2 separate regions of the Homo sapiens genome follow, and region 1 is linked to region 2. Evidence: fine-mapped expression QTL. A gene starts in region 2. The other region holds a variant in brackets. All regions are shown on one strand. Distances are between the middles of the regions. Region 1 holds the start of TSPAN16 (tetraspanin 16). Region 2 holds the start of TMEM205 (transmembrane protein 205).

Region 1 (14,680 bases), 54 kb after region 2:
ATAACCTAGGTGCATGTTCTATGCTGTGCCCAGCATCCCCTTTTGTGGGCTGTCTTCCCTTACCTGCCTCATTTGCCATGTCCCCTGCAGGTGTTTTCTGGGATCACCTCTCAAATAAACCACATGCCTTTGAATTATTGTTTCAGGGTCAGCCTCTGGGGAGGATGCCAATGAGGACGGCACTCTATCCTGGAGAGCATTCCATCTGGTGCCCAGAGAGCCGCCTCCTTCCCTGTACCTGATGTACAGGATTCCACTGTGTCGATGTATTTTAACTTGCCTAAACCCTTATTCATACTCACTAGGTTCTTTGCAATCTTTCTTTTTTCTTTTCTTTTCTTTTTTTTTTTTTTTCTTTTTTTGAGACAGAGTTTCACTCTTGTTGCCCAGGCTGGAGTGCAATGGCACAATCTCAGCTCACTGCAACCTCTGGCTCCCGGGTTCAAGTGATTCTCCTGCCTCAGCCTCCTGAATAGCTGGGATTACAGGCATGTGCCACCAGGCCTGGCTAGTTTTTTTGTATTTTTAATAGAGACGGGGTTTTACCATGTTGGCCAGGCTGGTCTCGAACTCCTGACCTCAGGTGATCCACCTGCCTCGGCCTCCCAAAGTGCTGGGATTATAGGCGTGAGCCACCGCACCTGGCCCTCTTTGCAATCTTTCACATGCCCTGGCATGAATGTGATTCTGCACACCAGCAAGTGAGTTCTTGAATAATTCCCAGAGATGGGACTGCCAGGTCAAAGTGCTGAAGCTTTTGTCATTTGGATGGATTTTGCTAAATTGTCCCTCTATTTTGAATACATTTCAAAACCCCAATCAATATGCAAACACTTCTGATCATCTCCCCTTCTCCTGCCACCAAACCCAAGAGGGATGAACTAAATGAACTCAGCAGGTTTTGTGAGGACTTGGAGAGGCAGGCTGAGGATTTCAGCTTCTCACACCATCAAAGGTGGCACGTGTGATGGGCCCCTCCATCACTGGGTCCCCACAATCGATCATGGGTGCCTGGCGGGGAGGGGCGGACTTCTATTGGTTCTATATCTTTTTTTTTTTTTTAACGGAGTCTCATTCTGTTGCCCAGGCTGGAGTGCAGTGGTGCAATCTTGGCTCACTGCAACCTCTGCCTCCCGGGTTCAAGGGATTATCCTGCCTCAGCCTCCTGAGTAGCTGGATTACAAGTGCGTGCTATCACGCCTGGCTAATTTTTTGTATTTTTGGTAGAGACGGGGTTTCACCATGTTGGCCAGGCTGGTCTCAAACTCATGACCTCAGGTGATCCACCAGACTCAGCCTCCCAAAATGCTGGGATTAGAGGCGTGAGCCACTGTGCCCGTCCTTGGTTCTTTATCTTTCTAATGCTATGTGGGAGGAGCAGGGCTGTACTTACAATTGGAAAGAAAAGAAGGACCACTGTGGCAGCTGTAACTTCCATGATGAGGACAATAACCATTGACAGGATGCACTAAAAGACACACGGGGAGAGAGGGCCTGGGAGCCTGCTCAGCCTCCTCCCGACCTTATACCCTGCAGGTGAGGGGTTGTCTCTGTTCCCCCGACCCTCCACCCCAGGCCACCCTGGCCTCTCCAGTTTAAAACAATTCGACCGGGAGCAGTGGCTCAACACTTGTAATCCCAGCACTTTAGGAGACCGAGGCGGGTGGATCACGAGGTCAGGACTTCAAGACCAGCCTGGCCAACATGGCAAAATCCCGTCTCTACTAAAAATACAAAAATTAGCAGGGCATGGTAGGGGTGCCTGTAATCCCAGCTACTCGGGAGGCTGAGGCAGGAGAATCGCTTGAACCTGGGAGGCAGAGGTTGCAGTGAACCAAGATTGTGCCACTGCACTCCAGCCTGGGCGACAGAGTGAAACCCTGTCCCCGCAAAAAAAAAAAAAATAGGTGACACCAAGCAAAGTTGTTTGCAACACGCACAATAAAAGATTTGTGTGTGTGGGGAGGCAGTTCTGGGGTCTGTGTGCAGATCCAACTTACAAACAAGAGCGTGCCTCTGCTCTCTTTAGTCGCTCCATACCACCCGGCACAGCCAAGCAGTACCGTGATGCATCCCATCACCAGGCACAGGTTGCCAACGTGAAGGAGGTATGCGGAGGACAGCCCGAGGACATTCGTCAGAGAGGCCCCTCCACATTTACCACCAATGCCCAGGCCAACTAGGATGATGCCAGACACCTTTAGAACAGAAACCAGAAAGGAAGAAAAGTAATCTGTTAGTTGTATACAAATAGAACTGGGTGAGTGCGGTGGCTCATGCCTGTAATCCCAGCACTTTGGGAGGCCAAGGCCAAGACTTGAGCCCAGGAGTTCAAGACCAGCTTGGTAAGACCTCATCTGTACCCTCTCCCCAACAAAAAAAAAATAGCCAGTAGTAGTGCGTGCCTGTAGTCTCAGCTACTCAGGTGTCTGCAGTGGGAGGATCACTTTAGCTCATGAGGTTGAGACTGCAGTGAGCTATGACTGTGCCACTGTACTCCAGCCTGGATGACAGATCAAGACCTTGTCTCAAAAAATAAAATAGGCCAGCCACAGTGGCTCACACCTGTAATCCCAGCACTTTGGGAGGCCGAAGCAGGTGGATCACCTGAGGTCAGGAGTTCGAGACCAGCCTGGCCAACATGGCGAAACCCTGTCTCTACTAAAAATACAAAAATTGGCCGGGCGTGGTGGTGGGCACCTGTAATCCCAGCTACTCAGGAGGCTGAGGCAGAAGAATCGCTTAAACCTGGGAGGTGGAGGTTGCAGTGAGCTGAGATCATGCCACTGCACTCCAGCCTGGGTGACAGAGCAAGACTCCGTCTCAAAATAAAATAAAATAAAATAAAATAAAATAATGTCATAGGACAGGGATTAGCAATTTTTTTTTTCTGAAAAACCCAGATGTTGTGGCCTCTGCAGGACTTAAGGTGTCTGTTGAAACTACGCAGTTCTATTGGTGTAGCCCAAAAGCAGCTGTTCACAATCTCCAAATAAGTGAGCACGGCCATGTTCCAATAACACTTTATTTTGTATTATTATTTTTTAAATAGAGATGGGGATCTCACTATAGCTGGTCTCGAGCTCCTGGCTCAATGGATCTGCCCACCTCGGCCTCCCAAAGTGCTGGGATTACAGGCATGAGTCACCACAGCCGGCCTTAATTCTCTTTAAAATGTTACAAGTGAAGAGGAGGAGTGATATTTCATTTCCTTCTCTTTCCTGGCAGCTTTTCCTTAGACTATGCTACAATGAAGACAATTACTTCTTTTTATGTTTTTATTCTTTTATTTTTTTATTGAGACAGAGTCTCGCTATGTTGCCCAGGCTGGAGTGCAGTGACACAATCTCGGCTCACTGCCAACCTCTGCCGCCCAGGTTCAAGCAATTCACATGCCTCAGCCTCCTGAGTAGCTGGGATTATAGGCACGTGCCACCACGCCCATCTAATTTTTTTGTATTTTTAGTAGAGATGGGGTTTCCCCATATTGACCAAGGCTGGTCTTGAACTCCTGACCTCGTGATCCACCCGCCTTGGCCTCCCAAAGCGTTGGGATTACAGGCATGAGCCAGCGCCCCCGGCCTGACAATTCCTTAGCAATGTACATTTCGGGTTACTTTTACGGTAAGGAAAAAAATGTGACAAATTTAAAAGATCAAGAAAATAACCCTTTCTCCTGGCCTTCCCAAACAACTTGGTCGGCTACAGGATTTGACTTAGAGCCAAGCTCTTCCATCACCCACCTGGGCTCCCCCAGATCACACTCATCTGTGCTGGATTTCACCAGCTCTCGGTTGATGGAGGTCCCCACGCTCCCTGCTCCTCCTCCTCCGTCTGCCCTACATCCCTCCTGCTTCTCCAGGGAACCACAGATCTCGATGCCAATTTGGATCAACTTATTTCTGTCTTTCAGGGAGCTGACTGTGGAGGAAGGGCTGCAACAAACCAGGGGCCTGGATTGTGACATACTTACAGCCACGAAGCCATTGAGTAAAGATAACAGTTTCTTCAAGGAAGAATACGGAGTGTGGATTTCAGCCATGCTGAACAGACTGGGGCACCCTGAACATTTAAGTTAACATCTTCCTGAACCTCTGGGCTACTGTTTCCCAAGATGATAGGGATCTGAGGAAGGGGCGCCAATGCTGACTTGCTCTGCCCCTCTGTGTCCTGGCTGCCTGATGGTTGTCCAAGGCGGCCCAGCAGCTGCCCCCTGCCCTGGTCATAAGCCTTTTATCACATCACAATTGGGTTCTGGAGCAAGGCTCATGGTCCAGGGAAATCAGGTGCCCCAAACTGCCCCCTGTTGGCTCCTCATCCTTCAAACAGGTCACAGCAGGGAAAGAGAACAGGCATGGTATGCTACCCTGGTACCCTCCAGATGCCACCAGGACCCTGTGGGCATAGTGCCCAGAGCTAACCACTTGCACAGTTGACATCTCCTAGTAGACTGGGGGATCCAAGCGGGGGAGGGGGGAACTTGGGCTGTCCTATTAACAGCTGTGACCCCTGCCAGGCGCAGTGGCTCACACCTGTAGTCAAAGCATGTTGGGAGGCGGAGACGGGCGAATCACCTGAGGTCAGGAGTTTGAGACCTACTAACAATACAAACAATACAAAAATTACCTGGGTGTGGTGGCACACGCCTATAATCCCAGCTACTTGGGAGGCTGGGGCAGGAGAATCACTTGAACCCAGGAGGTGGAGGTTGCAGTGATCTGAGGTCGTGCCATTCCACTCCAGCCTGGTTGACGGAGTGAGACTCTGTCTCAAACAAAACAAAACAAAAACAAAAACAGCTGTGTCCCCAAAGCCTGGCACTGCAGTACTTAAGAAACCCGCGGAGAATGAATGAATGGATCCAGAGGCTCTGTGATGCAGAAATCTAGCTACAAGCCACCGGGCCTCCCAAGCCCAAGCCCATACTTGGCCCATCCTTCATACAGGGCTCAGAGAGGCCAAGGGAACTGCCTGAGGCCACACAGGAAGCAAGACCAGGCTTTGAAGCCCCAAGAGTAACATGAGGGCAGGAACCTGTAAGGCAGAGAGTCCTGGAACTGTGAGCCATTGGTCACTGGGTTTTTTTCTTTTGAGACAGGATCTTGCTCCATTGCCCAGGCTGGAGTGCAGTGGTGTGATCATGGCTTACTGCAGCCACGACCTCCCTGGCTCAAGTGATCCTCCCACCTTAGCCTCCCAAGTAGCAGGTCATTGGGCTTTTCTCCATGGTGATAGATGTAGTTAGCATTTCAGGACCAAAAACCTTCTGTATGTCAGCACTGAAGACCTCCAGGCCTAGATCCTGCAGTCTGTAGCCCACTTTGCCCCCATACCTCCCCACCCTAACCATAGCAGCTTCACATTGCCCCACCCCGATCCCCTCTCTGTCCAGCCCTGGGCTGGGGTGTGTCTGGGTCCAGGTCCTGCATGGATTGGGGGAAGGCGGATGGTTCAAATGGGAGAAAATACCTTACACTTTAATTAATTTAATGAATGTCTGTCAAATCGCCTGCTTCTTGGAACATGTAGAACTAAGCAAGATGTTCACAGAGGAGTGCTGTCTCCTCCTGGACCACGGGTGCTGTTCACAGCCAGGAGTGTGTCCTTCCACACCTTTATTTAAGAGGTCATTTGAAGCCAGGCGCGGTGGCTCACGCCAGTAATCCCAGCACTTTGGGAGGCCGAGGTGGGTAGATCACGAGGTCAGGAGATCGAGACCATCCTGGCTAATGCAGTGAAACCCTGTCTCTACTAAAAATACAAAAAATTAGCCGGTTGTGGTGGCGGGTGCCTGCAGTCCCAGCTACTCGGGAGGCTGAGGCAGGAGAATCTCTTGAACCCGGGAGGCGGAGGTTGCAGTGAGCCGAGACCACATCACTGCACTCCAGCCCGGGAGACAGAGGGAGACTCCTCCGTTTCAGGAAAAAAAAAAAAAAAAAAAAAAGGTCATTTGAAGTAAGGAACCTCAGAACCAGGGGCTGAGGGCCTGGAAATGGGGGCACAAAAGAGGGTGATAAATGGGCATGCAAGAGAGCATTGGAAAATGTAGGGGGCAAAGGAGGTCTGGGAAATGTGGACTCAAGGGAAAGCAGGAAAATGGGGGTGCAAAGGAGGGTGCAGAGAAGGGGGACGCAAAGATGCGAGATGGAAACTTGGCTGCAAATGAGCAGTGGGAAAACGGGCTTAAAGGACGGTGGGAAAATGAGGCTCAGATACAAGAGAGCTGGGTGAGTAGCAGACGGCGCTGTAGACGTGGGAGCAGCTCCTGGAAGGAACTGGCCGGAAAGGAATCTGGGCCGGCTGCACGCAGCCCCGCCCCTCGACCGCCCCAGCCCCTCTACCCTCCCAGCTTCTCTGCAAAGCCGCATCTACAGCCTCGCGCGTCTCCTGGCGGCGGCCCGTGGAAGCGCGGCCCTACGTGCCGGGGCTGGGCCAGGACTCTCCCTGCCAAACACGTCCAAATGTGCCCGGGTGCCCCAGGGACCCCGCCCAGCCGGTCA[G/A]CGTCAGGAAATGAAGCAAGAATAACTTCCCGTGCCCCAGATTCCTACATCACACACCCACGGAACTTTGCAGGCATCCGACGAATTGCAAATGCAAGATACTTGCTTTTTTTTTTTTTTTTTTTTTTTGTAGAGACGCGGTCTCGCTATGTTGCCTGGGCTGACCTCTAAGTCCTAGGTTCAAGCCATCCTCCTGCCTCGGCCTCCTAAAATGCTGGGATTACAGGGATGAGCCACCGCGCCCGGCCAGGACGTTTAATATCATTGTCAAAATCATAGAAGGGCCACTCCAATACACCCTTATGGTGTGTTGAGACATTTATTTCTCCACATGCTTGGTCTCCTTTTTTATTTTTAGGGGATTAAAATTGTTTAATTTTTAATTATGTGGGCACATAGTAGGTGTACATATTTATGGGGATGGGAGATATTTTTTAAAAAGCACAATTAACCAGCCGGGCGCGGTGGCTCACGCCTGTAATGCCAGCACTTTGGGAGACCGAGACGGGCGGATCACAAGGTCAGGAGATCGAGACCATCCTGGCTAACACGGTGAAACCCCGTCTCCACTAAAAAAAATACAAAAAAAAATAGCTGGGCGTGGTGGCGGGCGCCTGTAGTCCCAGCTACTCGGGAGGCTGAGGCAGAAGAATGGTGTGAACCCGGGAGGTGGAGCTTGCAGTGAGCCGAGATCGCGCCACTGCCCTCCAGCCTGGGCGACAGAGCGAGATTCCGTCTCAAAAAAAAAAAAAAAAAAAAAAAATCACAACCAAAAAATGAAATGTGTTGAATACAATCACACACAGAATATTTATGTCAACGACCCATATTAGTCAACAAACTCTCCTCTTTTTTTTTTTTTTTTTTAATTTTCAGACGGAGTCTTTCTCTGTTGCCCAGGCTGGAGTGCAGTGGTGCGATTTCGGCTCACTGCAACCTCTGCCTCCCAGGCTCAAGCAATTCTCCTGCCTCAGGATCCTGAGTAGCTGGGATTATAGGCGCAACGCCACCACGCCCGGCTAATTTTTGTATTTTTAGTAGAGATGGGGTTTCACCACGTTGGCCAGGCTGGTCTCAAACTCCTGATCTCAAGTGATCCACCCCCCTCGGCCTCCCAAAGTGCTGGAATTACAGGCGTGAGCCACCGTGCCTGGCCTGAACTCCTCTTCTTAAATTCATGTGTTTGTTGTCAAGGGCAACAATTGGGTGTTTGGGAGCACTGAACAACAAATAGTGAATGAATGAGACCTGAGCTTGCGCCCACCCTTCAAGGTCAGAGAGGAGCGCGGCAGTAGGTTCGCCTGCTCACTTGTTCATGTAAACTTTGCGGCAGAAATGTATTTGTTTACGCCTCACAAAACCTAGATCCATCCTTGACAAAGGGGCATTTTATGGTTTCAGGTATTTTAATAGCCATCGTTGGGGAAGGAGGCAAATCAGAATCCACCATCCAAAAAAAAAGTCTGGGACACACAAAAGAAAGGTGTCTGTCCTTGCAGAGGCTGGTCCACACCTTTGGCATCAGTCACTTGTTCTAGGAGTTCCCAGGTTGTGCACCTCAGCCCTCACTGGGGACAAGCACAGAAGTGTCACCAAGTTTCAGCATCAGGGGCTGACGTCATTGTGGCAGGAGAGGAGCATGATGGTAATCATTGCTACCAAATGAAAAAAAAACAAACAGCATTTCCACCATTAGGGATTTTTTTGTTTGGCTGGTTGTTTTTTAAAATTGCATTTGTTTCCCCATGTTCACATTCTGCCTTAGGGTTAACACTTTGTGCTCTGTATGGTGGGTTGGGAGGCACTGAGGAGTGATCAGAAGACCCCTGTCAGGCCAGGCACAGTGGTTCACACCTGTAATCCCAGCACTTTGGGAGGCCGAGGCGGGTGGATCACCTGAGGTCAGGAGTTCAAGACCAGCCTTGGCCAACATGGGGAAGCCCCGTCTCTACTAAAACTACAAAATTAGCTGGATGCGGTTAATTACAGGTGGGCACCTGTAATCCCAGCTACTCAGGAGGCTGAGGCAGAAGAATTGCTTGAGCTGGGGAGATGGAGGTTGCAGTGAGCCGAGACCGCACCACTGCACTCCAGCCTGGGCGACAAAGCGAGACTCTGTCTCAAAAAAATAAAATAAAATAAGAAGACCCCTGTCCTACAGGGACACTCACTGCTTTCCCAGTTCCTCTCTCTTGCTACATAAAGAAAGATCTGCAATTTCTACCCCTTCAGCTACCTTAGCTTCTGGCTGGAAAAGAGGGAAGTGAAATTAAGGAGAACCAGGAGATGGGTTTTTGTTTGTTTGTTTGTTTTTTGAGACAGGGTCTCGCTTTGTCTCCCAGGCTGGAAGTACAGTAGTGTGATCTCAGCTCCCTGCAACCTCACCCTCCTGGGCTCAAGCGATCCTCTCGCTTTGGCCTTTAGAGTAGCTGGGACCAATGGCACGTGCCACCACGCCCGGCTAATTTTTTTATTTTTTGTGGAGACAGGGGTCTCGCTATGTTTCCCAGATTGGTCTCGAACTCCTGGGCTCAAGCAATCCTCCTGACTTAGCCTCTCAAAGCGCTGGGATTACAGGTATGAGCCACCACACCCAGCCAAGATCCTTGATAATATTAAAAATATTTAGTATATAAGGTATACCCAGGCAGTGATGAGAAGGGAGGGTTTCAGGGGTATCAACCTTGAAGGGTTAGGAGGACTGGAGGGTCCTGATGAGAGTTCAGGAAGCAGCGAGTGGCCCCAGACCAGTGCATGCAGGTGACACATCTCGAGGGGGCTTCTGTTCTTGTTAGCATGGGGGATCGGGTTCTAATTCCCTCTGTTGTCTGGGCAGCTGGTCCCAGGGTGGCCAAGACTGTTCCCATCCCATATTCCTCAAGTATCTCACTTAAACACATTGAAAAGGTTGGCCAGGTGCAGTGGCTCACGCTTGTAATCTCAGCACTTTGGGAGGCCAAGGCAGGCGGATCACTTGAGGTCAGGAGTTTGACACCAGCCTGGCCAACATGGTGAAACCCCGTCTCTACCAAAAATGCAAAAATTAGCCGGGCATGGTGGTGCATGCCTGTAATCTCAGCTACTCAGGAGGCTGAGGCAGGAGAATCGCTTGAACCCGGGAGGCGGAGGTTGCGTTGAGCCGAGGTCTTGCCACTGCACACGCCAGCCTCGGCAACACAGTGAGACTCTGTCTCAAAAAAAAAAAAAAAAGACCTCATAAATAGCTTTTGGAGATTTTATTACAGGCGGACCTGTAACAACCGCAAATGGACTTTTAAAACCTTGTGGGGAATGTTTCTCCTTCTAGGAATTCCTACTACAGATTTATTCAAATGCACATAGGCCAAGAGCTGGCAGATTTTTCTGGAAAGAGCCAGAAAGTAAATATTTTCAGCTTTGCGGACCATACCGTCTCTGTTGGGACTCTGCTATTGCAGCCATAGAAAATATGTAAATGGACAATATGTAAATATATGTAAATGAACAAGTGTGACTCTGTCAAAATAAAATGTTATTTATAATATGAGATGGTTTTGTTATTTACAAAAATGGGTGGCAGAATGTAGTTTTGCTAATGCCTGCTCTTAAGCCTCGCTTGACTTGTGAATGATTGGAAACAACAACTTAAGTGCCCTTTGTTTTTGTTTTTTTGTTTTTTTTTTAGACGAAGTCTCACTCTGTTGCCCAGGCCGAGGGCAGTGGTGCAATCTCAGCTCATTGCAACCTTCATTTCCTGGGTTCAAGCAATTCTCCTGCCTCGGCCTCCCCAGTAGCTGGGACTACAGGCATGCCCCACTATGCCCAGCTAATTTTTGTATTTTTGGTAGAGACAGGGTTTCACCATGTTGGCCAGACTGGTCTCGATCTCCTGACCTCAGGTGATCCACCTGCCTCGGCCTCCCAAAGTGCTGGGATTACAGCCGTGAGCCATCGTGCCCGGCCTTAAATGCCCTTTGAAAGTATTAGTAGCTGATTAAGTATAAGATTGTCCAACTAGAGGAAAAGATGCTCAAAAGCTGAGAAAATGAATGCAGAAATCTTTGTTGCTTTTTTGCAGACTGGATCTCACTTTGTTGCTCAGGCTGGAGTGCAGTGATGTGATCATAGTTCATTGTAGCTTCAAACTCCAGGGCTCAAGTGATCCTCCCGCCTCAGCCTCCTGAGTAGCTGAGACTACAGGCACACACTACCGCACCTGCCTTTTTTTTTTTTTTTTCCATTTTTGGTAGAGACAGGCTCTAGCAATGGTCTTGAACTCCTGGACTCAAGTGATCTGGCTGCCTCAGCCTCCCAAAATCCTGGGATTACAGGCATGAGCCACCACACCTGCTCAAATTCTTAACTAAAAGAATTGACAACGGGAGCCAGGCGCGGTGGCTCATGCCTATAATCCCAGCACTTTGGGAGGCCAAGGCTGGCAGATCACTTGAGGTCAGGAGTTTGGAGCCTGGCCAACATGGTGAAACCCCGTCTCTACTAAAAATACAAAAATTAGCTGTATGTGGTGGCAGGCGCCTGTAATCCTGGCTACTTGGGAGGCTGAGGCAGGAGAATCATGTGAACCCGGGAGGCGGAGTTTGCAGTGAGCCGAGATCACGCCACTGCACTCCAGCCTGGGCGACAGAGCGAACTCTGTCTCGAAAAAAAAAAAAGACAAATATTGCATGATTCCACTCATTTGAGGTCCCTAGAGTCATCAGATTCATAAAGACAGAAAACAGAATGGTGGGTACCAGGGAATGGAGAGGAGCGTGGGGAGTGAGTGTTTCATGGGGATAGAGTTTCAGTTTGGAAAGATGAGAAAGTTCTGGAGACGGATGGTGGTGATGGCTGCACAGCGATGTGAATGTGCTTAATGCTGCTGAACTGTACTTTTCTTTTTTTTTTTGAGACAGAGTCTTGCTCTGTTGCCAAGGCTGGAGTGCAGTGGCGTGATCTTGCGATCTCAGCTCCCTGCAACCTCCATCTACTGGGTTCGAGCAACTCTCCTGCCTCAGCCTCCTGAGTACCTGGGACTACAGGAGCGTGCCACCATGCCCGGCTAATTTTTGTAATTTTAGTAGAGACGGGGTTTCACCATGTTGCCCAGGCTGGTCTCAAACTCCCGACCTCAAGTGATCCGCCCACCTCAGCCTCCTAAAGTGCTGGGATTACAGGTGTGAGCCACCACACCCGGCCTGAACTGTACACTTAAAATGGTTAAAATGACAAAATTTTAAGTTATATATATTTTGCCACAGTAGAAAAGAAATAAATGTTGTAAAAGGAACAGGACTACAAGGCCTCCTGGTGGGAATAGAGGGAAATGACTCGGCCCGGTACCTGCTAATGTTCTCGCAGTTCCTGTAGAACTTCATGTCCAGCTCTGGTTACCGTGAGCACCACAGTGGGTTAAGTCATGTCACCACAAAATTCATATCCATCTGGAGCCTCAGATGAGACCCTATCTGAAAACAGGGTCTTTGCAGATGTCATTGGTTAAACATCTTGAGATGAAGTCAGCCTAGATTTAGGTCAGGTCCTAAATCCAATATCTGGTCAATATCTGGTGTCTTTATAAGACATAGGAGAGGGGTTAGGGGTGGTGGCTCATGCCTGTAATCCCAGCACTTTGGGAGGGCAAGACCAGAGGAGACAGGAGGCTTGAGGCCAGGAGTTCAAGACCAGCCCGGGCAACATATCGAGACCCTGTCTCTAAAAAAATAAAAATTAGCCAGGTATGGTGGCGTGTATCTGTAGTACTAGCCACTCTAGAGGCAGAGTTGGGAGGATGTCTTGAGCCTGGGAAGTCGAGGCTGCAGTGAGGTATGATGGTGCCACTGCATTCCATCCTGGGCAACAGAGCAAGACCTTGTCTCAAAAATAAATAAATAAGGTTGTTGGTTAAAAAAAAAAAAAAAAAAAAAAAGACCAGGCTCTGTGGCTCACACCTGTAATTCCAGCACTTTGGGAGGCCAAGGCGGGTGGATCACAAGATTAGGAGATGGAGACCATCCTGGCTAACACGGTGAAACCCCGTCTCTACTAAAAATACAAAAAAAATTAGCCAGGCATGGTGGCGGGCGCCTGTAGTCCCAGCTACTCGGGAAGCTGAGGCAGGAGAATGGCGTGAACCCAGGAGGCAGAACTTGCAGTGAGCCGAGATCGCGCCACTGCACTCCAGCCTGGGTGACAGAGCAAGACTCTATCTCAAAAAAAAAAAAAAAGGAGGCCAGGTGTGGTGGCTCATGCCTGTAATACCCAGTGCTTTGGGAGAGTGAGGTGGGTGGATTTTGAGGCAAGGAGTTTGAGGTCAGCCTGGCTAACATGGCAAAACCCTCTCTCTATTAAAAATAGAAAAATTAGCTGGTTGTGGTGGTGGACGCCTGTACTCCAGGCTACTAGGGAGGCTGAGGCAGGAGAATCACTTGAACCCAGGAGGCAGAGGTTGCAGTGAGCTGAGATTACACCATTGCACTCCAGCCTGGGTAATAGAGTGAGACTCTGTCTCATAAAAAAATGAGAGAGAGAAAGAGAGACAGGAGAGGAACATTTGGACACAGACAGAGGGGAGAAGGCCACAAGATGATGGAAGAGGCAGTGATTGGAGTGACGTGGCCACAATCCAGCGACCACCAGGGGCCACCAGAAGTTGGAAGAGGCAAGGAAGGAACCTTCCCCAGAGCTTTTGGGGGCAGCACGGCTCTGTTGACACCTTGATTTCAGACTTCTGGCATCCAGAACAGTGAAAGAATAAATTTTAGGGGGCTGGGCGTGGTGGCTGACGCCTGTAATTCCAACACTTTGGGAGGCCAAGGCGGGCGGAGCACCTGAGGTCGGGAGTTTGAGACCAGCCTGACCAACATGGCAAAACCCTGTCTCTACTAAAAATACAAAAATTAGCCGGGCATGGTGTCACATGCCTATAATCCCAGCTACTCAGAAGGCTGAGGCAGAAGAATCGCTTGAGCCTGGGAGGCAGTGGTTGCAGTGACCTAAGATCGCCCCACTGCTCTCCAGCCTGGGCGACAGAGGGAGACTGTGTCTCAAAAAATAAAAGAATAAATTCTTGTTGTTTTAAACCAGCAAGCTGGTGATGATTTGTTATGGCAGCTCCCAAAAATCTAACACAGACAGGAAGCAGTGGGTGGGTGATGACATATTTCAGCTGCCTGTGGGGGCTGAGAAACACAGCACAAGATTTGGGAAAAGGGTTCACATCCGGTGAAGGAGACCTTTCCTTCCTTCCTTTTTTTATTTATTTTTATTTTTTATTTTTTTATTTTTTATTTTTGACAAGGTCTCACTCTGTTGCCCAGGCTGGAGTACAGTGGCTCCATCATAGCTCAGTCCAGCCTCCAGCTCCTAGGCTCAAGGGATCCTCCCAGCTCAGCCTCCCTAGTAGCTGGGACCACAGCCATGCACCACCCCACCCAGCTAGTTGTTTTTTTTTATATATATATTATTTGTAGAGACGGGGTCTCCCTATGTTGCCTAGGCCACCACCCTGGTCCCTTTCTTCCTTAAGAAGAGAGATAATGTTCATGGCTTGCTGGTGACTTTGACTTTAAAAAAATCAAGGCACGAGGCCAGGCGCGGTGGCTCACACTTGTAATCCCAGCACTCCGGGAGGCCAAGGTGGGAGGATCACTTGAGCCCAGGAGTTCGGGACCAGCTTAGGCAAAATGGTAAAACCCTGTCTTTACCAAAAATACAAAAAATAAGCCAGGTGTGGTGGTGCACGCCTGTGGTCCCAGCTACTCTGGAGCCTGAGGCAAGAGAATTGCTTGAACCTGGGAGGCAGAGGATGCAAAGAGCTGAAATCGTGCCACTGCACTCCAGCTTGGGTGACACAGTGAGACCCAGTTTCAAAAAAAAAAAAAAAACAAGGCAAGCTGTGGTGGCTCACACCTGTAATTCCAGCACTTTGGGAGGCCGAAGCGGGAGGATCCGCTTGAGCCCAGAAGGTCAAGGCTGCAGTGAGCCATGATGGTACCACTGCACTCCAGCCTGGACAACAGAGTGAGACTCTGTCTAAAAGAAATAATAATAAAATAAAAATTCAAAATATTTTCAATGGAGAAGTCTGGATTTGAGGCGTCTCTTGAAAAATCCAGCCAGGCATGGTGGCTCATACCTGTAATCCCAGCACTTTGGTAGGCCAAGGAAGGTGGATCACTTGAAATCTGGAGTTCAAGACC
Region 2 (14,680 bases):
ACTTAAACCATGACCCCCAATTCCCTTGAATGTGATCCAGTGTGACACCAAATTATGACTTCAATGACCCTTGCATTTTACCCAATTGACACTTTTTTTTTTAGAGATGGGGTCTCGCTCTGTTGCCCAGACTGGAGTGCAGTGGCACGATTATGGCTCACTGCAGCCTCAACCTCGCAGGCTCAAGCGATCCTCCTGTCTCAGCCTCCTGAGTAGCTGAGACTACAGGTGTGCTCAGCCACAGGTGCACCATCACCCAGCTAGTTTTTAAATTTTTTGGAGAGATGGGGTCTCACTGTGTTGCCCAGGCTGGTCTCAAACTCCTAGACTCAAGTAATCCTCCCACCTCAGCCTCCCAAAATATTAGGATTACAGGCATGAGCCACTGTGTGGAGTCCCCATGGACTCATATAAGATCCAAGTGACTCTGAATGTGACCATGAATGACTCCTGGATGAAACCTCCAGTGACTCCTTAATGTGACCCCAGAACACTACTTAATGTGACCATAGAATAACACCCATCAGATGTGACTCCCAAATAGGCTCTCTGAACATAGCCTCCCTGTGAAGCTAGACAATGACCTCCCACCCCTGAGCAATTCTCAGCCTCCCTCACCTCTTAGGCTCGAGGCCTTGGGACAGGCCCCCGAGCACAAAGTGAGGCTGTCTATGGAGTTCTGCAGCACGTGCACAGCAGACCTGCAAGAAGACAAGGAGCTGGGGGCGCTGGGAGACTCCACACTGCTCAGGGTGTAGACAGCAGTACAGCTAAGGTTGGGGGCCGTGGTGGGGTGAGTCCTAGGGGGTGAGGGAAGTCTGGACTCAGGTGGGCTCCAGGTTCTGGTGGTCACTGCCAGATCCCGTTGGGGGAACGGGTTCAGAGGAGGGTCAGGGGTCAGACTGCAGGCTGGGCATCACCATATATCACTCAGTTCCTTCTGGAGGTCATCCTTCCAGCAGCCACTGGCTCCCTGCGGTATCTCTTCAGTCTCCGGACAGGCGGCTGTCTCATGACCCTGCTGCTTCATCTTGGTCAGGATCTGGGGTGGGGAGGGATGAGAGAACAGCAGTCATAATAATAATGACAATAGTGCCAGGCGCGGTGGCTCACACCTGTAATCCCAGCACTTTGGGAGGCCGAGGCGGGCAGATCACGAGGTCAGGAGATTGAGACCATCCTGGCTAACACAGTGAAACCGCATCTCTACTAAAAATACAAAAAGTTAGCCGGGCGTGGTGGCGGGCGCCTGTTGTCCCAGCTACTCGAGAGGCTGAGGCAGGAGAATTGCTTGAACCCAGGAGGCAGAGGTTGCAGTGAGTTGAGATCGCGCCATTGCACTCCAGCCTGGGCAACAAGAGGGAAACTCCGTCTCAAAAAAGAAAACAAAATAAATAATAATAATGATAATAGTAAAAGGTGACTGTTATATAGCACTTGTTATATGCCAGACTGCATTCAAGTGCACAGTACTCAGCTAATACAGACACCTGATCAGGTAGGGAGGAGTGTTTTTTTTTGTTTTGTTTTTTGTTTTTGTTTTTGGTGTTTGTTTCTTTTTTGAGACAGGGTCTCAGTCTGTCGCCCAGGCTAGAGTGCAATGGTACTATCAGGGCTCAACGCACCCTGAACCTCCAAGGCTCAAGTGATCCCCCTACCTCAGCCTTCTGAGTAGCTAAGTCTACAGGCATGTGCCACCACACCCTCTTGTTTTTTTTGTTTTTTGTAGAGACAGGGTTTTGCCATGTTGCCTAGGCTGGTCTTGAACTTCTGGCCTCAAGCAATCCAACCACCTCAGCCTCCCAAAGTGCTGAGATAACAGGCATGCCACAGCACCCAACAGGATGAGTTTTCTTTTTCTTTTTCTTTTTTCTTTTTTTTTTTTAAGATGGGAGTTTTGCTCTTGTCGCCCAGGGTGGAGTGCAATGGCACGATTTCGGCTCGCTGTAACCTCTGCCTCCTAGGTTCAAGCCATTCTCCATCCTCAGTCTCCTGAGTAGCTGGGATTACAGGTGCCTGCCACCACACCCAGCTAATTTTTGTATTTTTAGTATAGACGGGGTTTCATCATGTTGGCCAGGCTGGTCTCGAACTTCTGATCCACCCACCTCAGCCTCCCAAAGTGCTGGGATTACAGGCGTGAGCCACCGCGCCCAGCCAAGATGAGTTATTATTACATCCATTATACAGATGAGGAAACTGAGGCTCAGAGAGGTCAAGTGACTTGCCCACAGTCACACAGCAGTGAGTGGCAGAGCTGAGATTTGAACCCAGGCTCCAATCTCATGGTGGAGGCTGGCCAAAATCCCCATCCCTCCCTCTCCCACTCCTCCCCAGGGTCCCCATCTCCTCCACTCACTTTGCGGCATTTCACCTGCGTTTTCTGCATTTTCTGAATGTTCACCAAGTTCTCTGAGATCTCATCCTCCTGCGCTTCTGTGGAGGGAGGGGGCTCAGGCGGACAAAGGCTGAAGAAGGACCCCCTCCCCACACACCGGCTGTGGGCTCCAGGAACTCACGGAGCTTCTGATAGATGAAGGTCACCTCCTCCCGCACCAGTTCCAGCTCCTCCCACAGGAACTTCTTGCTGAGGGGACAGTGCAGCCTAGACCTGCACTCCCTGCCTGGCCCCTGACCTCCCATGCCCCTATCTGTGCCTCCACCCATCCCCGCAAGCTCTGTCCCCTCCCCACACTTCCCTGCCCTTTTCCCCTCCCCTTCTACAATCCCCCTACCCTCATCCCCCTCCTCTCCTTCTGATCCCCAGCCTCCCATTCTCTCAGTCTCTCCCACCCCACTCAGCCTCCTATCACCTGGCCTCCACCTCCCCACCTCCTGTCCCCCGACTTTCTATACCCCCAGTCTCCTGTCCTCTCAGTCTTCCCTGCCATCCCCCTTTCTGATCCCCTGGCCTCCTTTTCCATCCCACCTCCAGCTTTCTGTCTTCCCTGCCTTCTGGCCTCTCAGTTTCCCACTCCCCCGCCCCCACCAGCCACCTGTCTCCCCTGAGCCTCTCATCCCCTCCTCATTTTTTTTTTTTTAGACAGAGTCTCGCTCTGCCGCCCAGGCGCCCAGGCGCCCAGGCTGGAGTGCAGTGGTGCGATCTCAGCTCACTGCAACCTCTGCCTCCTGGGTTCCAGTGATTCTCCTGCTTCAGCTTCCCTAGTAGCTGGGATTACAGGCACCCGCCGCCATGCCTGACTAATTCTTGTATTTTTAGTAGAGATGGGGTTTCACCATGTTGGCCAGGCTGGTCTCGAACTCCTGACCTCAGGTGATCCGCCCATCTCGGCTTCCCAAAGTGCTGGGATTACAGGCATGAGCCACCACACCCGGCCTCATTCCCTCTTCTTGTCCCTCAGGCTTTCCACCATCCCTCAGTCCCCCTCCCCCAGGCATCTGCCATTTCCCCCATCCTGCCTCCATTCCCCAGTTCTGGGTCTCCCTTCCCTCCTGTGGACTCCAAGCTGCCCTCCCGCCATCCCCGACCTGTCCCGGATCTCCTGGGCCAGCAGCTGCAGGCAGCGAGTGGTGCGGGCCCGCTGCATCTCCTCACTGTCACGCAGGGTCTTCTCCAGCCCCTGAAGGCCTTGGGTCAGGGCCCCATACAGCTCCTGCCGGCCCTGCTCCATGCCCCACTTGTGCTCCTCCTTCTCTCCCTGGCGGCCTGTGGGGCTCAGCACCTCTGCAGAGAGTGTGGGACCTTGACTGAGCCCTGATCCCACCCTGAACCCAGCTTGTCCTAATCTTGACCCAGAACCCAGACTCTCCCAATTTCCCTCACCCTGGCCTGGCCCAGCTGATCCCAACAGGACCAGCTTCCAGCCTGACTTTTTTTCTTTTGAGATGAAGTCTTGCTTTGTTGCCCAGGCTGGAGTGCAGTGGCGTGATCTCGGCTCACTGCAACCTCTGCCTCCCAGAAAGCAATTCTCCTTTCTCAGCCTCCTGAGTGGCTGGGACTACAGGTGCATACCACCACGCCTGGCTAATTTTTGTATTGTTAGTAGAGATGGGGTTTCACCATATTGGCCAGGCTGGTCTCGAACTCCTGACCTCAGGTGATCCACCTGCCTCAGCCTCCCAAAGTGCTGGGATTACAGCCATGAGTGACAGCACCTGGCTTTTTTTTTTTTTTTTTTTAAGTAGATATGGGGTTTCACCATGTTGTCCAGGCTGGTCTCAAACTCCTGACCTCAAGTGATCCAACCTCTTTGGCCTCCCCAAATGCTGGGATTACAGGCGTGAGCCACCACGCCTGGCCTAGCCTGACCTTGATCTCTGGTCAGTCCTCACCTTCAAGCTGCTGAATCTTGATTTGCTGCAAGCAGCTCTCCTTCTCCAACATGGTCACTGAGTGGTTCAGGAACTCGAAAGCCTGGGGGAAAGAGGTCAGCCTTGGGGTGGGAGGAAGGAGGGGAGGGCAAGGAGAAACAGAGGTTGCTGGGGGCAGGGCCAAGGTGGTTCACCTTGGTCTGGGCCTGTAACTGGCTCTTGAGTGACTCAAGTTCACATCGCAGGAGCTTCTGGGAGTCGGGAATCATCACAATGGTCTTGGCTGTGGGCAGAGAAGAGGGTGAGCCAGGGCTGTAAGGGGTGGGGTCTGGGGCAAGGGCAGGGCAGAGGTCAGCAAAGGCTCAGAGTAGCAGTAGGGACAGGGGATAAGATATAGAACAGGGGCCCACTCAGCCTTGGGCAGGAGTGAATGGGTGACCATGGCAGGGGGACAGCTGATGCTGGGGCAGAGGGTAGAGGTAGAAACCAGCAGGTCTTCCCCACACAGTTTTGTTGGAAAGGAGATTTCTCACCTTTGACTTTGGAAGAGCTGGTCTCCAAGGGCTTCTAAGGAAGAGAGATGAGATGGGAGTAGAAATTTGTCCCTGAGCTGCCTCCTTGCTCACCTCAACCCAGTTTTGAGGGCTGGACAAGAGTTGGATCTCCTCAGTTCTAGGTGTCCCAAACCGTAAGTGCAGGCAAAGCTGCACTCCAGGCATATTCATGCACCTCCCCCTTGGGCTACATATGCTCAGAAGTGCACTTATGTGGCTGAGAGACGATCACAGCCAAATCCCCATGGAAGACACACAACCACACTCTTTCCTTCCATTCATTCCTTCATCCATTCATTTAAGACTTGCTTAGCCAGGGCCTGCTGAGTGCCAGGTGCTGTTCTAGGTGCTGAAGAAACACAGTGGGTGCATTCATGGGAGTCTCTCTGCCTTACAGCCCCTTCCCTAAGCCCCACAGCAGTAGATTGCAGTGGTTTTCTGCATTGAAGGGGTTTCCCGGGTGGGGGTGACCTTAGCTACGTTGTGATGCCTCTTCAAAATGTCCTGGTCATTACAGCACTGCTTCTGCAGGTCTGGACTGGGGGAGGGGGCAGCCTCATGTGGCGAAGGCCCTGAGCCCCACCCTGGCCTGCAGTCTGCAGTCCTCACTGTGTCCCCAGAAGCAGGGCATCCCAAGGTCTCTGGCTCTGGAGTCCTGGACCAGTGAGCTGTACGCTCCAGAGCCTTGTCCGAGGAAGAGCCTAGGGGTGAGGGCTTCCTTGAGGGACAGTGCAGGGCACTCCTCACATTCCCAGCCCCTCCCAGTGTCCCCAGCCCTATGGGAGCCCCCTAACTAACCCCAGTACTTGTCACACTTCATGTTAGCAGGCAAACACATGCTGGAGGGTGAGGGAGGTGAGTAGAGGCAGGACACAGAGTAGTCAGGGTCCCGGGGTAGGCCGGCCAAAAGAGGGTCGCTGTGAGTAGGGAAGCAGGGGCTGCTTTGAGATAAGTCCCCATGTCCCCAGTGCCCCCAGACCCTCCCTGACATGCCAGAGAGGCCTCAGCCCTAAACTCAAGGCTTCTCAGTTATGGTAGGAGCCAAAGCTGGATAAAAGATGATCCCAAGGCCAGACGCGGCCAGCAATGGTGGCTCACGCCTGTAATCCTAGCACTTTGGGAGGCCAAGGCGGGAGGATCACTTGAGGTCAGGAGTTCGAGACCAGCGTGGCCAATATGGTGAAACCCCGTCTCTACTAAAAATACAAAAACTAGCTGGGCATGGTGGTGGGCGCCTGTAATCCCAGCTACTCGGGAGGCTGAGGCAGGAGAATCACTTGAACCCGGGAGGCGGAGGTGGCAGTGAGCCGAGATTGCACCACTGCACTCCAGCCTCAGCAACAGAGTGAGACTCAGTCTCCAAAAATAAAAAACAACAACAAAAAAGATTATCCCAGCCCCAAGGTTTGGGCTGGGCAGTGAGAAGGACCCAGAAGGCCCCAAAGAAAAAAAATCAGGCCTCAGAAGAGTCCAAAGAAAAAAGGGACCTTGACATTGGCTTAAAGGAAGGCCTTTCCTGGCAGGGAGCAGCATGTGCAAAAGCTTGGAGGTGTGGAATCACATGCTCTATGCTGGTAAATTCATGATGGCTGAATCGAGGTCCGAGAGGAAGCAGCAGGAGGTTAGCAGAGCAGCTCCAGTAAGGCATTGACGGCCAAGCCAGGAGTTTCGACCTGGCCCCACAGGTGAATGCCAGCCATAGAGTGTGAGCAGGAGAGGCAGGGCATATCTGTTCAATAAATGTTAGCTGAATTGGGGCCCAGACCCGTGCTAGAAGAGGCTGGAAACAGGAAACAGCTGAGCTCTGGGTCTCACATTCAACTCCCCTCCCCCTCCAGTATAGCCACATATGGCACAGATGGAGATATCTGGGGCAGGTCTGCCTGGAGAAACTTCTAGGTGAAAGGCACCTTGCCCTGAGTCACACTCAGCCTCTTCCCCCAAATCCTCTAGACCTTTCTCTCTGTCACCCTTGCCAGGCCCTCTGCCTGATTCAGTCGACCTGGAAGACTCCTACACGCTCTTCAGAACTACTCAGGCTGGGCACGGTGGCTAACACCTGTAATCCTAGCACTTTGGGAGGCCAAGGCAGGTGGATCACCTGAGGTCAGGAGTTCGAGACCAGCCTGGCCAACATGGAGAAACCCCATCTCTACTAAAAATACAAAATTAGCCAGGCGTGGTGGCGCATGCCTGTAATCTCAGCTACTTGGAAGGGTGAGGCAGGAGAGTCGCTTGAACCTCAGAGGCGGAGGTTGCAGTGAGCCGATATCATGCCACTGTGCTCCAGCCCGGGCAACGAGAGCGAAACTCCGTCTCAAACACAAACAGACAAACAAAAACTATTCAGCATATCTTCAGTAAAATCTTCCTTAATCCTTTTTTAGGCTCCTATTTTCTGAGCACCTAATTGAGTGCCGGGCATCCCCTAAGCATTCACTGGATCTTCACACCCACCCTGTGATGTACACGTTTTTCTTCTGCCTGAAATGTCCTAAGCTGCCCCTCCGAGAGTCACTGCCTCAGGGAGGTCCTCACTTCCAGGGACAGCAGAGTATGACGGTTAAGCAGGGAAACTCTCCAGCTAGATGGCCTGGGTTCAAATCCTAGCTCTGTCCCTTCCAGCTGTGTAATACTGGTCGCGTTACTGAACCTCTCCATGCCTCAGTGTCCCCAACTATAAAAACGAGATGTCATAATAGTCACCTTACTGGGATGTTGTGATTAGATAAATTAATCCATGCCAGTGCCTGGTATAGAGTAATGGGGAGCTGTGTTTGCTCTGGAATGTCACGCTGAGAACCCGGGACTTAGGGACCATAGGAAGCCTGGGAGGCTTGGAGGGGAAAAGGAGAGGCATTTGAGAACCAGCTTAGGTCCCCAGTAGTGCCTCCTCTCTCCCCGTCCCATCCCGGTTGCTGCTTCCGTGTCCCTCCCGGGAGAATTATTTAGGGAGGGGGCGGGGTCATCATCCTGGCTCCGCCCCCTGGGTTGTGAAATCTACACCCGCCAGGCTCCAGAACCCCACCTACCACATACCACCTGTTCATGCTCTCCCATCAGGGACCACGAAGCCAGTCCTCAGCTGTGACGCTGAAGTTTGATCCCGCGGGGACACCATCGTATTAAAACGCTCAGAGACTGAGTCACAGAGAGGGGTGTGGCCGGCATTTTAGTTCCGCCCCTGCCGGAGTAGCCGAAGGCCTCATTGGCGCCTTCACGCTTCAGCTGCGCTTAGTAGCCGCGGCGTAATTGGATAAAAGCCCGTGGAGGGGGCGGGATCCCAGGGGGGTTTCTACGATTAGTCAATACCCAGGAGGGCGGGATAGAAAGGTGCAGATCTACGACCCGATTGGCTTCGGGCTCAGCTGGGAGGCGGGACGAATTATTGGTTGGGGGAAACCCACGAGGGGACGCGGCCGAGGAGGGTCGCTGTCCACCCGGGGGCGTGGGAGTGAGGTACCAGATTCAGCCCATTTGGCCCCGACGCCTCTGTTCTCGGAATCCGGGTGCTGCGGATTGAGGTCCCGGTTCCTAACGGTGGGATCGGTGTCCTCGGGATGAGATTTGGCGTTTCCTCGGGGCTTTGGTGGGATCGGTGTCCTCAGGATGAGATTTAGGGTTTCCTCGGGGCTTTCGGGATCTTCACCTAATATCCGGTATTATTTTATGAGAGGAGTGGTCTTGGCTGTCAGAACTGGATCCCTGGGGTGATATTTGGGAATTAGTGGAGTGATCTCTGAAGACCTAGGGCTATGATCTGGAGCTGCTGTGGCTGAAATTTGGGGCCTCTGAAGTGGCATGGAGATTGAGGTCCAGAGAGCCTGAGATCTTGAGGGCTGACATTTGGAGAGATGGGGTCGAGGGTTGTCTTTGGGCCTTGACTGCTTTGGGCCTTTCTCACTCTCATTCCCGGGATGCTTTGCCAGAATCTCTGCTGGATTGGCCGTAACCCTGTCCCCGAGCGGGCTCACAGGGTCTGAAGGCCACGCATGAGGCAAAGGTAAAGTTCTGAGCCACCCGGTGCCTCCTTCCCAGGACTGCAAGATGGAGGAAGGCGGGAACCTAGGAGGCCTGATTAAGATGGTCCATCTACTGGTCTTGTCAGGTGCCTGGGGCATGCAAATGTGGGTGACCTTCGTCTCAGGTAGGGACCCTCAGCTTGGATGTCATGGGTACCTGGGGTGGGGATGGAAATAAGAGGGGAACCGGGAAGTGCCCTAACACCCCTGTGGTCCCCATACCCTGCAGGCTTCCTGCTTTTCCGAAGCCTTCCCCGACATACCTTCGGACTAGTGCAGAGCAAACTCTTCCCCTTCTACTTCCACATCTCCATGGGCTGTGCCTTCATCAACCTCTGCATCTTGGCTTCACAGCATGCTTGGGCTCAGCTCACATTCTGGGAGGCCAGCCAGGTACGTGGGTTTGAGTGCCACTGCCCTCTGGAGACTTGTTCCCAGGACCTCAGTCAGCGCCTATGGCTACACCTTTTCCAGGGGGGGAAAAAAAAAGGCTAGGCATGGTGGCTCACGCCTGTAATCCCAACACTTTGGGAGGCCGAGGTGGGCGGATCACGAGGTCAGGAGTTCAAGACCAGCCTGACCAACATGGTGAAACCCCGTCTCTACTAAAAATACAAAAAAATTAGCCAGGCGTGGTGGTGTGCACCTGTAATTCCAGCTACTCAGGAGGCTGAGGCAGGAGAATTGCTTGAACCGAGGAGGCAGAGGTTGCAGTGAGCCGAGATCATGCCATTGCACTCCAGCCAGGGCGACAAAGCAAGACTCCATCTCAAAAAAAAAAAAAAAAAGGAAAGGAAAGGAGAGGAGAGGAAAGGAGAGGGGAGGGAAGAGGAAGGGAGGGGAGGGGAGCCCCTTCTTCCTGGTAGATACAAAGCTGGGCTCTGGATACCCTTGAGCAGTGCACAGCCTGTACAACAGTCCCCAGCAGCCCTGTCTATCCCCCAGCATCTCCCTGCTAGCTGCTGTTCCCTCTCCTCCCGCTGGCTGGGCCTGCTGCCAAGCTGTGGTGACTCAGCTGAGCTGGCACATTGACCCCAGCTTATTGTTTAAAAACCAGCCCGACTGGGAATTTATGGTTTCCTATCCCCTTCCACACATTTTTCTGGCCACAAGGCAAGAAACTATCTCTGCATCTCAGATTTCTCTATTTACTCTGGCCTTCCCTTGCCTGCATTATGTTTCATAGACGTGGGTAAGTGAGACCTGACAGGTGTTTCAAGAATAATCTCACAGACAGGAGGGGATTATGGGTAACTAGAACTTCACAGACTGTTTTTTTTTCCTTTTATTTATTTATTTTAATGAAACAGGCTCAGAAGGTATTCAAATACTTAAAACAGATAGAGATGGTGTTATAGCAATGTGAGAATGGCAAAAACATTTTTCCTAATTAAAAAAAATAGGCTGGGCGCAGTGGCTCATGCCTGTAATCCCAGCACTTTGGGAGGCTGAGGTGGGTGGATCACGAGGTCAGGAGCGCGAGACCATCCTGGCTAACATGGTGAAACCCCGTCTCTACTAAAAATACAAAAATTAGCTGGGTGTGGTGGTGTGCGCCTGTAATCCCAGCTATTTGGGAGGCTGAGGCAGGAGAATTGCTTGAACCCAGGAGGCGGAGATTGCAGTGGGCCAAGGTCACGCCATTGCACTCCAGCCTGGGCAACAAGAGTGAAACTCAGTCTCAAAAAAAAAAAAAAAAAAAAAGATGAGGGTCTTTGCTGTGTTGTTCAGGCTGGTCTTGAACTCCTGGCTTCAAGTGATGCTCCCACCCCCATCTCTGAAAGCACCGGGATTACAGATTACAGGCATGAGCCACCATGCCTGCCTTCAAAGACTTTTTGTTTTGTTTTGTTTGTTTTTGAGACAGGGTCTTGCTCTGTCGCCCAGGCTGCAGTGCAGTGGTGCAATCTTGGCTCACTGCAACCTCTCCTTCCCGGGTTCAAGCAATCCTCATGCCTCAGCCTCCTGAGTAGCTGGGATTACAGGGGGACAGCCCCCACACCTGGCTAATTTTTGTATTTTTAGTAGAGACGGGGTTTTGCCCATGTTGCCCAGGCTGTCCTTGAACTCCTGGCCTCAAGTGATCCACTCACCTCAGCCTCCCAAAGTGCTGGGACTATAGGCATGAGCCACTGCGCCCAGCCACTCAAAGACTTTTTATTCACCCTCTGTGGGTCCAATGTCAGCTTCAGGCGTCTGGGCTGTGGCCACTGAGGAAAGAGATCCTGCTCTGGGGACTTCCAGTCTGAGTATCAGAGGAGAAGAGGCTCGGGAGGTTTTGCGGGGGGATAGAGGAGGTGGGGATGGAGCCTTTCCTTCAGAGCTGCCAGTTTCAGAGTAGAAGAGCTGGAGTTCTGCTTTGGGTCCCTCAGTCTGGGTTCAAGGAAAGAGGGGGAGGCAGGTTTTTTGATCCAGTGCTGTCCCCACCCCCACCCCTGTGCTGTTGAGGATGCAGAAAGACCCTCCCTAGGGCCCCTCTGGCCTCCCAGGCATGGCTCACCTTCTCCTCTGCTCTCCCTGCCAGCTTTACCTGCTGTTCCTGAGCCTTACGCTGGCCACTGTCAACGCCCGCTGGCTGGAACCCCGCACCACAGCTGCCATGTGGGCCCTGCAAACCGTGGAGAAGGAGCGAGGCCTGGGTGGGGAGGTACCAGGCAGCCACCAGGGTCCCGATCCCTACCGCCAGCTGCGAGAGAAGGACCCCAAGTACAGTGCTCTCCGCCAGAATTTCTTCCGCTACCATGGGCTGTCCTCTCTTTGCAATCTGGGCTGCGTCCTGAGCAATGGGCTCTGTCTCGCTGGCCTTGCCCTGGAAATAAGGAGCCTCTAGCATGGGCCCTGCATGCTAATAAATGCTTCTTCAGAAATGGCTGCTGTCTTTTTTTTTTCCCCCATGAGAAGCAGGGGGAGGGGCAGGCAAGGGTAGAGCCAAGAGCCTCAGTTTCCCCATTCATGAAGCATGATGGTTTGGAGTGTCAGCCATTTTATCCTGTAAGCCTCTCCTATAATGATGCCCATTTATTGAGCACCTGCTGTATACCAGACATGTTGTTAACCACTGACATATCATGTATTATTTGTTTTGTTTTGTTTTGTTTTGTTCTGTTTTGAGACGGAGTTTCACTCTTGTTGTCCAGGCTGGAGTGCAGTGGTGCGATCTCAGCTCCCTACAACCTCTGCCTCTGGGTTCAAGCGATTCTCCTGCCTCAGCCTCCTGAGTAGATGGGATTACAGGCATCCGCCACCATGCCTGGCTAATTTTTTGTATTTTTACTAGAGACAGGGTTTCTCCATGTTGGTCAGGCTGGTCTTGAACTCCCGACCTCAGGTGATCCACCCGCCTTGGCCTCTCAAAGTGCTAGGATTACAGGCATGAGCCACCATGCCTGGCTGTTTTGTCTTTTTTTTTTTTTTTTTTTTTGAGACAGAGTCTTGCTCTGTTGCCCAGGCTGGAGTGCAATGGCATGACCTTGGCTCACTGCAATCTCCGCCTCCCGGGTTCAAGCGATTATTCTGCCTCAGCTTCCTGAGTAGCTGGGATTACAGACACCTGCCACCACGCCCATCTAATTTTTGTTATTTTTAGTAGAGACGGAGTTTCACTGTGCTGGCCAGGCTGGCCTTGAATTCCCGACCTGAGGCCATCTGCTCGCTTCGGCCTCCCAAAGTGCTGGGATTACAGGCGTGAGCCACCACGCCCAGCCTGTTTTGTCTTGTTTTTGACAGGGTCTTGCTCTGTCACCCAAGCTGGAGTGAAGTGGCGTGATGATAGCTCATTGCAGCCTCCAACTCCTGGACTCAAGCAATCCTCCCACCTCAGCCTCCAAAGTAGCTCGGACTACGGGCGCCAGCCACCAGGCCCAGATGGTTCTGATCCTAGAGGACAATCATATTTCCCACCCTACTGACATTGGGGGTGGCCATGTGACTTGCTTTGGCCAATGAAATGTGAGCAGAGGTGGCATGTGTCCCTTCCAAGGAGAAGTATTACAAAACAGTACATAATTTGCTGCATTTTCACTTCACAAAACAACCATCATGGGAACCAAACCTTAGCTGTTGGGGCCGTGAAGTCTTTGGGAGTGCTTGTTACTAAGCATAACCCAGCCCTTCCTAACTAATGCACTTCATCCTCATTCATCCACGTGGCAGCTCTTGAGGCAGCTACTTTTGTTCCCACGAGGCAGTGGGGGCTCAGAGAAGTTCAGCAAATTGAGTAAGGTGGAATTGCTGGGATTCCAACACCAGCAAAACCTGGGTATTTCACAAAGGGATCCAACCCACTTTAACTTTCTTTATTTAGAGATAAAGTCTTGCCCTGTCACCTAGGCTGGAGTGCAGTGGCACAGTCATAACCTACTGAAGCCTCTCTCTCTCCCAGGCTCAAGCAATCCCCCTGCCTCAGCCTCCGGAGTAGCTAAGACTACATGTATGTGCCCCCATGGTCAGCTAATTTTTTTTTCTTTTTTCTTTTTTTCTTTTTCTTTTTTTTTTTTTTTTTTTTTTTGTGGCCAGCTAATTTTCAAAAAAATTTTTTGTAGAGTTGGGATCTCTATGTTGCCTAGGCTGGCCTTGAACTCCTGAGCTCAAGGAATCCTCCTGCCTCAGCCTCCCAAAGGGCTGGGATTACAGGCATCAGACACTGTGCCCAGCCTCATTTATTTTTTAATTTTTTTTTTTTTTTTTTTGAGACAGAGTCTCACTCCATCGTCTAGGCTGGAGTGCAGTGGCGCGATCTCGGCTCACTGCAACCTCCACCTCCTGGGTTCAAGCGATTCTCCTGCCTCAGCCTCCCAAGTAGTTGGGATTACAGGTGTGCACCACCATGCTCGGCTAATTTTTGTATATTTATTTATTTATTTGAGACAGAGTTTCGCTCTTTTTGCCCAGGCTGGAGTGCAGTGGCGTGATCTCGGCTCACTGCAACCTCCGCCTTCCGGGTTCAAGCAATTCTCCTGCCTCAGCTTCCAGAGTAACTGGGATTACAGGCATGCGTCACCACGCCTGGCTAATTTTGTATTTTTTAGTAGAGACAGGGTTTCTTCACGTTGGCCAGGCTAGTCTCGAACTCCCGACCTCAGGTGATCTGCCCACCTCGGCCTCCCAAAGTGCTGAGATTACAGGTGTGAGCCACCGTGCCCAGCCCCTAATATTTGTATTTTTTTTTTTTTTTTTTTAGTAGAGATGAGGTTTCACCATGTTGGCCAGGCTGGTCTTAAATTCCTGACCTCAAGTGATCCGCCTGCCTTGGCCTCCCAAAGTACTGGGATTACAGGCATAAGCCACCGCGCCCAGCTCTCGTTTATTTTTATTTATTTGAAACAGGGTCTTGCTCTGTTGCCCAGGCTGGAGTGCTGTGGTGCAATCAAGGCTCACTGCAGCCTCGATGTCTCCAGCAATCCTCCTGCCTCAGCCTCCCAAGTAGCTGGGGTTACAGACGCACGCCACCACACCTGGCTAATTTTTGTTATTTTTAGTAGAGATGAGGTCTCCTTACGATGCCCAAGCTGGTCTCAAACTCCTGGCCTCAAGTGATTCTCCTGCCTCGGCCTCCCAAACTGCTGTAATTACAGGCCACCGCGCCTGGCCTAGCCTACTTTAAGGCCGGCACTGCACTTGACAAACACTAACTCAGATCAGAATCCTCCCACAACTCTGTGAGGTTGGGTACTCTCGCTATGAGCTACTTGACGGATGGGGAAACTGAGGCTCAAAGAGGTTAAGTAACGCGTCCAAAGCCACAAGACTAGAAAGTGGTGGAGCTGGGACTCGAACCAGGCCCAAGACTCTATGCTTTTAACAGCCGTGCGTATAGTAGAAGCTCTTTACAAG

What was found. PIP is the estimated chance that this variant, and not a neighbour inherited with it, causes the effect.
Region 1: its variant is fine-mapped to the expression of TMEM205 in whole blood (TOPMed, PIP above 0.99).

The regions. Positions count from the first base shown.
Region 1 is chr19:11,285,660-11,300,339 of GRCh38, reverse strand. It overlaps TSPAN16 (tetraspanin 16), which reads right to left and starts at 4,180. Exons shown (of 7, transcript NM_001282509.2): 1 at 3,974-4,180; 2 at 2,001-2,198; 3 at 1,394-1,468. The coding sequence starts at 4,042. RefSeq lists enhancers at 1,146-1,645, 1,646-2,147. The variant G/A (reference allele first, on the strand shown) is at 6,501.
Region 2 is chr19:11,339,813-11,354,492 of GRCh38, reverse strand. It overlaps TMEM205 (transmembrane protein 205), which reads left to right and starts at 8,225. Exons shown (of 3, transcript NM_198536.3): 1 at 8,225-8,973; 2 at 9,078-9,241; 3 at 11,373-11,715. The coding sequence starts at 8,874. The coding sequence ends at 11,678. It overlaps CCDC159 (coiled-coil domain containing 159), which reads right to left and starts at 7,974. Exons shown (of 11, transcript NM_001080503.3): 1 at 7,866-7,974; 2 at 4,806-4,839; 3 at 4,467-4,555; 4 at 4,294-4,375; 5 at 3,490-3,685; 6 at 2,520-2,587; 7 at 2,360-2,436; 8 at 921-1,042; 9 at 619-701. The coding sequence starts at 7,886. RefSeq lists enhancers at 3,523-4,023, 7,874-8,704.